2 linked regions of the Homo sapiens genome follow. The protein of the gene in region 1 interacts with the protein of each later gene in a pairwise test. Each region holds a gene or a part of one and is shown on either strand. Other genes may lie near its edges.

The links. Proteins that work in one complex are often made in the same cells at the same time.
Region 2: the proteins of TLX1 (region 1) and PBX2 interact in binary tests that used the Homo sapiens proteins (3 or more experiments, as listed by UniProt).

The regions. Positions count from the first base shown.
Region 1 is NC_000010.11:101,126,021-101,135,510, forward strand, and holds the start of TLX1 (T-cell leukemia homeobox protein 1), read left to right. Parts: upstream 1-5,279; 5' UTR 5,280-5,521; coding exon 5,522-6,089; intron 6,090-8,118; coding exon of another isoform or gene 8,119-8,154; coding exon 8,155-8,356; intron 8,357-9,490. UniProt on the Homo sapiens protein: Controls the genesis of the spleen. Binds to the DNA sequence 5'-GGCGGTAAGTGG-3'.
Region 2 is NC_000006.12:32,184,233-32,187,530, reverse strand, and holds the end of PBX2 (pre-B-cell leukemia transcription factor 2), read left to right. Parts: intron 1-135; coding exon 136-289; intron 290-629; coding exon 630-718; intron 719-840; coding exon 841-927; intron 928-1,056; coding exon 1,057-1,149; 3' UTR 1,150-2,798; downstream 2,799-3,298. UniProt on the Homo sapiens protein: Transcriptional activator that binds the sequence 5'-ATCAATCAA-3'. Activates transcription of PF4 in complex with MEIS1.

The DNA of each region.
Region 1 (9,490 bases):
TCTGCCCCTTTTCTGAGACAAATGGGAAGGTAGAGGGAACACTTTTGGTACTAGGAATGCAGACCCCATTGGCCCCGCCATGGATCGCATCATGTCACACATCCCCTTACATATTTCTCAGCCCCCTTTCCCTACTATATATCCATTGGGTATACCCTGTGTCCCCCTCCCCACGACCACAGGCCCATACACAGCCACTTCTCTGACAATTCCATCGGAATAAAAGACACTCCTCCCATGGTACACGCCATCTGCAGCACGCAGTCGTAGCAGAGGGATGCCCTCATCCCATCACAGGCACTCACTACAGAGGAACAGTTGTAAACACATACTCATCTTGTTGCAGAAAACACATTCACTTGCATTCTCACTGACACATACATCCTCACATGACAAAATCCAGTTGTATAAAATACCCAGACTCCCTTCTTTTCCTCCAACACTCTTCCCAACATGCATTTTGCTTGCAGTTGTATCCCAACAGCCTAACACAGTGCCTGATACATACTAGATGCTCTATAATTATTCATTGAATACATTGTTAAAATTATTTCTTAAAGACATGCCCAGGACATCTGCACAGCCCTCTCAATCCTGACTGTCACACAGGCTTTCCCATCCAGCTTTCCCCTCGTGGATGCACGGCCCCACAAACACAAAGTAATTAAGTTTCCACACATATCCGTAAGCTAAAGGACAACCCCTGGCCCGGGGGTCTCTTTCAGAGCGGGGAAGAGGAGGAGATTGTGTGGGATCCAAAGGGGCCTCCCCCTGGGCTGAGCCCGTCCTTTCCTCCTCCCCCAGCCCGGGCCCTGGCCCCAGCTGCTCTTCTTTTAATTGGAGGCACTTTTTTATTCTGCAGGCCAGGGGGAGCCGGTGCTTGGGGGGAGGGGTGTTACCAGGTGGCCTCAGAACCAGAGAGAAGGATCTGCAACTCACCTAGGTTCCTGCAAGATAGTCCTGTGAGGCAAGAGCCAAGTTTAGGCTTAAGGAAGCAGCTTGTAGTGAGTGGAGTCAAGAAAGCAGTGTTTGCGTCTGGTCTGCCCCTTTCCAGCTTTCAGTGCCTTGGTTTTCTCATCTGTAAAATGGGGATAACAAAAACCACATCACAGGATTAAAGATGAGTGGAGAGATCATTCTGGTGGCTCACACATGGCAGTTGCTCTGTGAGTCCTGCTTTCTTCCCCTCCCTCCTCGTTCCTATCAGGGCTGTTTTGCAAGGCATGCAAAAGCACGGTGGAAACACAGAAGCTGCAGCGAATATAAACTTGTGTGAGTCTCCTCTCCTGTTTCAGAAAACTTCCCAACCTTGCAACACCGTGCTCAGGTAACACTGCTCTCAGGAGAAGGGGTGGGCGCCAGAGCCCAGCAAATCCTGACCCTCCAGTCTCATCTTTCTAGGTAAGGAAGGGACAGAGAGGGTAGTCTTGGCCCTCAGTAAATACCCTATTGGAAGACAAAGGCTGGGATTAAGCTGACTCACAGAATCCCAGCACCTCATTGAGGGTAAAAGTTGGGAGTATCCCCAATTGGGATAAAAGTTGACTCTGATAAACAAAAAAGGTAGGAGGGGAAAAAGGAAGAAATCCGTCAAGGAAGCGGCTGTGATCGCAGGGGAAAGTCAGTATATCCCTGGGCTGCTGGATTTTAATGAGAAGAGCTTGACAGTCTTAGTGGGCCATGTACAAGGGAGTGGTGACTCTGCCAACCTTAAGCTGGGCCAGGAATGGTAAAGTCTCCTCCCAGGTACCCTGGACAACTGATACCAGATCTGAGGAGTTCAAGAGGTAGATCAGGCAAATGCCAAAAGGGTTGGAAGGCCATCTGAGCTGGAGATGTGCACCTGGAAAGATAGGTGGTTTATTTTATTTTATTTTATTTTATTTTATTTAGTTTTATAAATTTTACCTTCAACCAACCCACACCAAAAGATGGGGTTTTAACTGCAGCAGGTAAAACTGTGGTGAGACTAAAAGGAGTGAGGCCACTAGGACCCAGCCTCAAAAAAAGCTGCAGTACCCTTCCCCATAGTTTTCAGCCTCAAACAAGGAAAATAGCTCAGATTTTGAGATTCCAGATCAATCTTCTCTGTCTATGGAACTTGGAGCAAGTTTGTTCTCTTTACTGAGTCTCAGTTTTCATTTTCTTTTTAGAGATGGGGCATTGCTATGTTGCCCAGGCTAGAGGTGCAATTATAGCACATCTCAGGCTCAAATTCCTGGCCCCAAGTGATCCTCTAGCCTCACCCTGCAGAGCTGCTAGAACTACAGGCACGGGCCACTGCACCCAGCCATTTTTTTCTTTTTAAAAATGAGATATAATTCATGTGCTATAATATTCAGCCCCTTTAAAATGTATAATTCGGTGGGTTTTAATATTTTTAAAAGTTATGTAACCATCACCACTATCTCATTCCAGAATGTTTTCATCACTCCAAAAGGAATTCTGTATCCATTAGCAGTCAATTTCCATTCCCTGCTGCCCCCAGTTCCTGAAAACCACTAATCTATTCTCTGCCTCTGTGGATTTGCCTATTTTGGACATTTCATAAAAGTGGAATCATACAATATGTGGCCTTTGTGCTTGGCTTCTTTCACTTAGCAGAATAGTCTCCTAGGTTCATCCATGTTATAGCATGAACCAGCATTTCCCTTCTTTTCCTTTTTATGGCTAAATAATATTCCATGTGTGGATATAACAAATTTTGTTTATCTATTCATCAGTTGGTGGACATCTGAGTTGTTTCCCCTTTTGGGCTATCATGAATAATACTGCCATGAACATTCATTCAATTCTCTCAATTATAAAAAATTGGGACATTTCTATTAACTTGCCTGGGTTGTTATAAGTCTTAAATGAGATAAGCATGATGTGGTACCTGGCACAAAACTGTCTTTCAATAAATAATTTATTTCTGCTTTAGTTCCCTCAAGATAAGAGGCAGGAAGAGATTCATTCGGGTTCAGACAACTTCCAAAGTAAGTTATGGAACTCCTTGGGAAGGGGTAGAGTACCTGGATTGGGTAAGTGGGAAGAAGAGAACTGGCGAGGGAGCGGAGCCCTCTCATGTTTCTGCTTAGTGTTTTTTTTTGTTTGTTTGTTTTTTGAGATGGAGTCTTGCACTGTTGCCCAGGCTGGAGTGCAGTGGCGCGATCTCAGCTTACTGCAAGCTCTGCCTCCTGGGTTCACGCCATTCTCCTGCCTCAGCTTCCTGAGTAGCTGGGACTACAGGTGCCCACCACCACGCCTGGCTAATTTTTTGTACTTTTGGTAGAGACGGGGTTTCACCGTGTTAGCCAGGATGGTCTCAATCTCCTGACCTCGTGATCTGCCCGCCTTGGCCTCCCAAAGTGCTGGGATTACAGGTGTGAGCCACCATGCCCAGCCTTCTGCTTAGTGTTTACAAACAACTACCAATTTCACATTTGGCTTTGTCTTGAGTGGGCCTTTGTCCACCTGGCTAGAGCTCAGACAAGGTTTTCCCCACAGATACAAACTTCCAACCAGCACGTAGGTTTCCAGGCTAACCCACAAAAGCAAGTTGAGTCTAGCTCCTCCATATTGATCCACACCAATCATAGCTATTCTGAAATGTACTTTCCTCACATCTGTAAAATAGGGAGAATACTCATCTCGAAGGATTGGTGTAGAGTTTATATTGTTCTCCATAATACTAACATCTGTCTTGTTGTATTTGCTTCTTTGCTTATTGTCTGACCCCCTCTATAGAATGTAAGCTTCATGAGGTCAGGACCTTTGTTTTGTTCACTGCTATGTCCCCCATGCCTAGAACAGTGCCTGACACATAGTGAGTACAGTACTCAATAAATATTATTGAATAAAGAGATACATTCTTTGTTATTCACCCAAGATGACCATATTTTGTTGTTTGGGGCTGTATTCTTCAGGAGAGAACAGAAATGAATAAGCCACTCTCTGCCTCCAAGAAGATCTCTTCAAGTGGAGGTGACAGACATGCCCAAAGCAAATAGATTGCAATAAGACTTGATGGGAGAGAATGTGAGTCTTCACATCCTAGCATCTTTCCAGATAGAGACAGGGCCTACCCAAAAGTCTAATCTGAAACTGAACTGAAATAGAACAGAAATAGATCCCAAGTGATGGAACCTGTGCCTTTCCCAAAGCTTGGCTTCTAAAAGGTAGCAAACATTTTCTACTGGAGAGGGGAAAGACAGGAAGAAGAAAAAGGGAGTTTCCTCCTTTTCTCTTGGGCTCTCAGCCAGACAGCCACTGGCAAAACGTTGGAAAGGCCTAAATTTGTCCTGGATGCACTTCCCTGATCCTAGTCCCACCAATCCCAGCCCCCACGGCCTTAAGCCCCTATGGCTCCCTCCCAAGATTCCAAACGTAAGAAAAGAACACACACCACAGTCCAAAGGCTTCTTGTCTGGAATAGCCAACCCTGGGGTAATTGTTAGGTGGAATGCAATCTGGTTGAATTCATTCAAACACTGTAGGAATTGCCTCTTTCGAACCCTGTAGGATTTTACTTCTTGACGCATCTGTTTATTTAAAACCAAAGGGGTATGTTGAGGCATGGGCACCCTGGCAGCAGACCCCAAACCAACCCTCTTGACTTGTGCCTGCCTTTCAGGATATGTTCCCTTCCTGAATTTGTCTAAGAAGGCTGAGTTGGGGGGTGGTTGCTGATTTTTATAACATATAGCCAGTTGTTCATAGGCCTGTGTTTTAAAGAAGGGCAAGCCTGAACTCACCGTCCTGCCTCAGGGCCTGGGCTCCATACCTGGGGAGTAGACAGTCTTCTACTTTCTAAAAAGCTGGACTTGAAATTTGGAGTAAATCTCCTGGTTGAGTGACAGGTGTTTCGCAGCTGAGCCCTTGAGGAGATTCTCCAGTTGGGCAGAGACATCCCTTCCTCAGACGCCTTGTGGGCTGGACTCCTTTGGCCCAGTTCAAAGTGAGGGGAGGGCTCCCAACAGGCCGGGAAGACAGTTGACTTCACCCTCCTTGGGTTTGTCTGTCTGTCCGTCTCTGGGAATGGTCGCTTCCTGTTTTCCCTTTTCCTTTTAAGCCTCGCCTTGTTCCCCTCTTCTCTCTCTTCATGAACTACTCCGAGTCTTGGTCTCCGTCCCTCTATCTCTGGCTCCTGCATCTGTCTCGGCTTCTGGCCTTCCTCTCCCCCTCCCCTCCCCTCCCTCGCGCTGTCATTCACCCCGCTCCTCTCCGCGCACAGCCAATGGAGAGACCCAGTCGAAACCGCGAAGCTCTCTTGCACCGGGCTTTTTCGCCTGGTGATTGATGTCCCAGAGTCAACAGCGAGCGAGCAGCCGGAGCGGGGAAGCAGAAGCCAGAGAGGGGAAGAATACGGCGCCCCCTCTCTCCCTCCCCTCCCCCTTCTACTTTAGCCTTTCTGCGCACTTCGCTTCCAAGTCTCCGCGCAGCCAGGAGCCGCTGTTGCCTCCCAGCCCCTGCTAGCTGCCCCCCGAGCCGAGCGCAGCGAGCGCCGCCGCCCGGGCCCCCCGGTGGGGCCAGGGCCAGCATGGAGCACCTGGGTCCGCACCACCTCCACCCGGGTCACGCAGAGCCCATTAGCTTCGGCATCGACCAGATCCTCAACAGCCCGGACCAGGGTGGCTGCATGGGACCCGCCTCGCGCCTCCAGGACGGAGAATACGGCCTTGGCTGCTTGGTCGGAGGCGCCTACACTTACGGCGGCGGGGGCTCCGCGGCCGCGACGGGGGCTGGAGGAGCGGGGGCCTATGGTACTGGAGGTCCCGGCGGCCCCGGAGGCCCGGCAGGCGGCGGCGGCGCCTGCAGCATGGGTCCTCTGACCGGCTCCTACAACGTGAACATGGCCTTGGCAGGCGGCCCCGGTCCTGGCGGCGGCGGCGGCAGCAGCGGCGGTGCCGGGGCACTCAGCGCTGCGGGGGTAATCCGGGTGCCGGCACACAGGCCGCTCGCCGGAGCCGTGGCCCACCCCCAGCCCCTGGCCACCGGCTTGCCCACCGTGCCCTCTGTGCCTGCCATGCCGGGCGTCAACAACCTCACTGGCCTCACCTTCCCCTGGATGGAGAGTAACCGCAGATACACAAAGGACAGGTTCACAGGTGAGTCCGGCCCGCGCGCTCCCCGCCTGGCCGCGGCCCGGGCTCCGTGCTACCCCTGCCCCGCCGGGTGGCTCCCCAAAGCCGGTTCTGCGCTCCAGGTCGCCCAGCTCTTCTTGGTGCTTCCCCCAAGTTGAGCCGCCCGCCCGATTCTATAACGCAGACTCGCCATGCTTGAAGAGTTCTCTCAGCCTGGACCCCTCTCTGTCTCCCGAAGGACCCCTGCTCGGAGGAGCTCTCCCTGGTCCCCTCTCCGGATCCACTAGCCGGGTCAGGCAGAGAGAAGGAGGCCATAGATTCAGGACCACCTTCTGCAGCTACTCTTGGCCTGGGAATCTTAGAGAAAGGGGTGCAACGTGAACAGTTTCTTCCGTCCTGGCTGCTGTTCTAGGACCCAGGAAGCGAGCCCCAGGATCAGACACAAGAAAAGAACAGGTTCCCCCACCTCCAGTCCCCTACACACATGCACTTCGCGCCCCTAGCTCCGGTGCCCGTGGTGCTGCGGGGCCAGTGGGGGCTCTGAGCCCCGGTAAATCAGCAGAACCAGTGGCCTTTTTTTTTTTTTCCGGAGAGCAGGCTTCATCTGGGAGGATGGCAGCGGGGCTTAGCCGCCCAGGACAGCTAGCTTTTCATTTTCGTTCTCTCCCGGCTGGGTGTCCTACCCCGGGCCCAGCCCTGTTATCTTGGGCACGAACAATGCACCGGTAGGCTGGTGATCGGTGGCGGGAAGACTACTCCCGGGACATTGGGTACTAAGTGGTGGCCGCTGCCGCCTTCTCTGCTGCCCGCTCCCGCCTTCCTCTGCTGGCCCTGGCTCCCTCTGCTCCCGTTTCCACTCTGGGCACTCAACTCTCCCTCTGGCGTGGATCCCTTCCCCCGTTCTCACTTTCTGCTCCCCTTAGGGTTCCCTGGATCCTAGACCACGATCCTTCCGTCCGGGCTGGGAAGCAGCCACAAATTGAGCCCAGGTTAGCCAGCCGATCTTAGAGAGAGGAGGCAGGAGGCACTGGCTGCTGCTGGCAGAGATGGGGCCTCCTGGGGGTCCCCCGGTTCAAGGGCCCAACAGTGGAAGGGGGGTTTACATAACTACTTGGGAGAAGCTGCTGAGAGCTAGATACTGGGCCAGGAGATTCCAAAGCACCCCTGGCTTCCTGCTTCTGTTCCAGGCAGCAGCACAGCCAGGGAAACTGCTTCTGCAGCTTCTTACCAGACTCTGGGGCCACGGCAGAAGTGGTGTGGAGGCTGGTGTCCAGAGGAAGAACAGTTGCTTGGGTCTAGGCCTCAGGAAGGGCCCTCCCTAGAGGGGTCCCAGTGCCCCCAACCTAAGTTTTCTCTGGCCTGGGGCAGCAGGGCCTGGTGCCCATCCCATTCCCCACCCAGGCCAGGCCAGTCTTGAAGGGCCCTGCTGGAAACCCAGCCGGGAGTCCACTAATCCTGGGCCTCTGGTGAAAGGTACTCGGTTTAGGGCCTACCGCGGGGCCCTAATACTGTGTCAGGCATGAAGGCGGTTTCAGCGAGTGTATGGCTGTGGCCTTGTTTTGCTCTGTGTCCTGTGTGCTTGTCCCGTGCCTGTGCTTGTCTGGTCCTGTTTGGGTGTATAGATCTGTGAGTTTGCCCCCGTTGTACGTTGTGTTGGTGTGTGCTGCTGTGGATGGAGGCTCAGGTCGGGTTCCAGAGTCAGGCTCGGCCTCTTACTCTGAGCCTGAAGGCCTGGGGCTGACTGAGGGGAGGGGAGCGTGACCATTAGCTCGCCTTAGACTGCCCCTGGAGGAGAGGCGGCAGGGAGGTGGTTGGGCTCGCGGGAGCCCGGGGCCAGGGAGGCCTCCGTGGTAGCGGCGACGGCGGCGTCGGACTGGCGGGCAGGAGGAGGCCGTTTCCCGCCGTGGGCTTGTCGCTGAGGGCTAACGGGAGGATCTCGGCCCTGCTCGTGGGGGTTCAGCTGCTGCGCTCGCTGACTCGCGGGGTGTTGGGCCTGGGACGCTTCCTGACGCTCTGCTGCTTGCCTCTGCCGTCTGTCTGTCTCCCGCTCCAGTGGCCCTCTCACCCTTCACTGTAACACGCCGTATAGGTCACCCCTATCAGAACCGGACGCCCCCCAAGAAGAAGAAGCCGCGCACGTCCTTCACACGCCTGCAGATCTGCGAGCTGGAGAAGCGCTTCCACCGCCAGAAGTACCTGGCCTCGGCCGAGCGCGCCGCCCTGGCCAAGGCGCTCAAAATGACCGATGCGCAGGTCAAAACCTGGTTCCAGAACCGGCGGACAAAGTGGAGGTGAGCAAGCGGGGCGGGCCGGCCGCCCGCGAGCGGCGCGGTCTCAGGCAGCTCTCGGTTCATTGGCCTCTCGTGGGGCGCACATACTTTTTCCGCTCGCGGTTTCTGATCCTTTCGGAGGAGCGAGCTCCCGCTAGGCTTGCGGGGAGCTGGAAGCAACCGAGGCCGATAGCTGGGATGGGGCTGAAGAGCCCTGGCTCTGTTTTACCGGAGGCTTCAGGGCTTTCTGGTTGGCACACTCTCTGCCGGTGTAGACGCGGCAGGTCTATTCCGCCGCTTGGGCAAACAGGCGGGTTAGTGCACTCCACGCAGTCCAGGCTCCAGGGATCTGTGAGTCCTGGGGAGCTTTTTGTTTGCGCAAACTCTTGCTTATGGAATCCTGCTCTGTCCTGGAGACTGGATGCAGAACAGCCCGCACCTTGTTGCAGCGCTCCAGCCGGGCTCCCGGCAGAGGGTCTGTGGCCCCAGACCGCGGCCCTGCTGACGGTCTCCTCCCCCAGACACCCGGCCTTTGCGCAGCCGGTCCCTACCCTGGAAGGAGAAAATCAATCCGCGCCGGCTGCGGCGGGGTTTCGCGGGTCCCACTGGAAGGGGAATCAATTAGGAGCAGATGGGTGTGTGTGAGAAAGAGAATTTTCCTTCTCCCATAGCCACAACTCTAGTTACTACGCAATGGGCTTTTTGTTTTGTTTTGTTTTTTCACATTTACGCTCACGGACGTGAAGCGTCCCCAACACTCTCGAGCAGCCTCCCTCTCCGCGCGCACTGACGCTTTCTCCGGCTGCACCCTCTGGCACGCTGCACCCTCTGGCACGCTGCACCCTCCCGCACATCTGGCCCTTGCCCGCCGGAGTTTCTCCCCTAGCTCAGGCCCCATGGGGTAGCGCGGGAGAGTCTGGGCGAAGTCGGCGGCGCCGAGACGGGCGGGCCTTGGGGCAGGAGGAAGGAATTGGAGTTTCCTCTTTTTCTGAACGAAGGCGAGGAATCTGCCTGGGATTCCGCCTACGGGGCCACAAAGGAAGCCATGGCCCCACGATTCTACCACAACATTTCTGACGCTGGGAAAGGAGTGGGGGATGCGGCCTCAGACCTTGGAACGCTAAAGAGGGAGCCAGGGCTAGCTCGGGGGTTGGG
Region 2 (3,298 bases), on another chromosome or scaffold:
AATTGGAGACCAGCCTGGGCAACAGCATAGTGAGACCAGGAAGCAAAAAAAAAAAAAATGCTGTCACTCACATCTTATTCAGTGAAGGACTTCAGAGGCAAATGTTTCTACCTGACCCTCCTTTCTGCCCCACAGGTCTCCAACTGGTTTGGCAACAAGAGGATTCGCTATAAGAAAAACATCGGAAAGTTCCAAGAGGAGGCAAACATCTATGCTGTCAAGACCGCCGTGTCAGTCACCCAGGGGGGCCACAGCCGCACCAGCTCCCCGACACCCCCTTCCTCTGCAGGTGGATCCCACTGTCACCCCGGCTGACTGTTTTGCACACTTCCTGCTTTTGTTCCCACTTCCTATCTAGGCAGGATCATAGCAGAGAGGGGGCCTTTTGGGGTGAGAGGGACCGAGCTGAGATAGGCTGGAGATGTCAGGGGACAGAGGCCATTCCAGTGATCTTAGTTCTGCCTTTCTTCCCACGGGTGGCCAAGGAACAGCCTGCTCTTTCTGTGTGTTGGAATGTTATTTTGTGGATAATTGGAGTATAGTAGCATGTCCCCACAAGAGTTGAGAGTTGTGGTTCATCCTCTACCATCACGGGCTCTATTACACTCTTCCCTCTCTGCCCCCACAAGGCTCTGGCGGCTCTTTCAATCTCTCAGGATCTGGAGACATGTTTCTGGGGATGCCTGGGCTCAACGGAGATTCCTATTCTGCTTCCCAGGTCAGATGCCCATCTCCTCTCGAATAGGGCTTTCCCCAACTCCATTTCCTCTACTTTAGGATACAAGACCTCTTTCCTCTGAGGCTTCTCTTCACTGTCATACCTTCCTCTGCTGCCTGCAGGTGGAATCACTCCGACACTCGATGGGGCCAGGGGGCTATGGGGATAACCTCGGGGGAGGCCAGATGTACAGCCCACGGGAAATGAGGGTGAGTGGATCCTGAAGCTCCTCTCTGTCCAGTTCTCACAGGACAGAGGGGCATTTTCCCTAGTAATGTTGTGCCCACACAGGGTTCCCAGGGCTTTCTCTGTTTTCTGTACTCTGTCTCTCCTTTCAGGCAAATGGCAGCTGGCAAGAGGCTGTGACCCCCTCTTCAGTGACATCCCCAACGGAGGGACCAGGGAGTGTTCACTCTGATACCTCCAACTGATCTTGCCCCTCAGGGTCACAGGGGTGGGGGCTCTCACAAGGCGACTTGAAGAGGACGCAGGCTTCCAGAGGACAAACCCCAATACAGGAGAAGCACAAGACAGAGAAGGGCCAATGGGGTCATCCCCTCCCTAACGAGACTCTCTGTGCTGGGGGTGCTAATTACATGGCAGGAAGAATGGGGCCTCTAAGGGGAGTGTGGGGTCTGTCTCTCCCTTTTTTCCATCTTTTTCCTCTCTCGCTTTCTTTCTTACACAGAAACATACACATACCGAGAAACCTATTTCTCAGACCCCTTTTTCTCCTCTGTCTTTCTCTCTCCCTCTCCCACACCTCACACACACATACTCCCACTTGCAACTATTCTGTTTCTCTCCTGGGCTCCCCCACTTTCCCTTCCCCACCCCACTTGTATGCTCTGGAATCTGTGGAGACGCCAGCCCTGCCCAATCAGAGATGCCAAAAATGGGGACATGACTTCTGGACAGAGGACATGGGCCACGCCCCCATGCATCCCCACCCCCGCCCCTCCGGACGGCTTACTTACCTCATACGCAGCTCATCTTAAACCAATAGAATCGCTCGGTGGACGAGAGTGTCTGACTCAGATATCTACCTCGGAGGGAGTTTCTGCTACTTTAGGGAATTATTGACTGGGCTTTGGGGTTGAACTTTTTTTTTTTTAAAGAAAGAAAAAGAAACCCTGGGATCCATCTGTTTTTTTTGTTGTTGTTGTTGTTTTTGTTGTTGTTGGTGGTGGTGGTGGTGGTGGTTCTTAATTTTTAATTTAGTTTGGGGAAGTAGCTTGTTTTTTTTTTTATAAATATGTTGATTTCTTGTCTTTTTTTTTTTTTATTTCTTACTTTCCCATATTAGGGGTGATAGCCAAAGGGGTTCTGGTAAGAGAAAGGGGGACAAACAGAACTGGTAAAGAGGCCCCCCTGGCTCCAGGCCTGTCCATCAGGAAGTAAATTTTACAGGGCACCAAGCTTTGCCCCCTAAAATCCCTTAGGTGTTCTTTGTTCATGCAGGCAGGTTTCTGCCGCATTTGATGTGGAGGCAGTGAAGGGCTTGCCCTGCTGGCCTCTCATCCCCCTTCTTCCCACAACCCTTGGGCAGGGCTGGACTCAGTAATTTTGAGGAAATTGAAGATGCCATCTTCCCCTGTGAGTGACATGTCTTTAATTTTTTAAAAAACTACTATTTGAAAATTGGAGGGGGAAGAATGGGAAGGGAGTTATTGCCAAATATGTTAAATATGGGTTGGGGTGCTTGTATATGTATCTTCCTCAATTTCCCCATAAATGAGGTATCTTTTTGTCACACCAAAATCAAGGGGTAGGGAGAGGGAGGAGGTTGCAAAAAGCCAGATGTGGGGGAAAAGTAACATCAACACTGTCCCATCCTCAGCCCTGAACTAGCTACCATCTGATCCCCTCAGACATTCTCAGGATTTTACAAGACTGTCAGAGTGGGGAACCCCTCCCATTAAAGATCCGGGCAGGACTGGGGACAGGTTGGAAGTGTGATGGGTGGGGGGGTGGGAGGCATGGGCCGGGGGCAGTTCTCTCCTCACTTGTAAACTTGTGTAGTTTCACAGAAAAAAAACAAAATGCAGTTTTAAATAAAGAAATTTCTTTTTTCCCTGGGTTTAGTTGAGAATTTTTTTCAAAAAACATGAGAAACCCCAGAAAAAAAATGATTTTCTTTCACGAAGTTCCAAACAGGTTTCTCTCCTGTTCCCCAGCCTTGCCTTCATGATGCAGGCCCAATTGCACCCTTGCAGACAACAGTCTGGCCTGAACCCTATTGATGCAACTTTGCGCAATCAAGATGGGGCTCCAGTGGGTCACCAGGCAGCCCTGATGGACTGATGGAATAAATAGGATCGGGGGCTCTGAGGGAATGAGACCCTAGAGGGTACACTCCCCATCCCCCAGGGAAGTGACTGTACCCAGAGGCTGGTAGTACCCAGGGGTGGGGTGATAATTATTTCTCTAGTACCTGAAGGACTCTTGTCCCAAAGGCATGAATTCCTAGCATTCCCTGTGACAAGACGACTGAAAGATGGGGGCTGGAGAGAGGGTGCAGGCCCCACCTAGGGCGGAGGCCACAGCAGGGAGAGGGGCAGACAGAGCCAGGACCCTGGA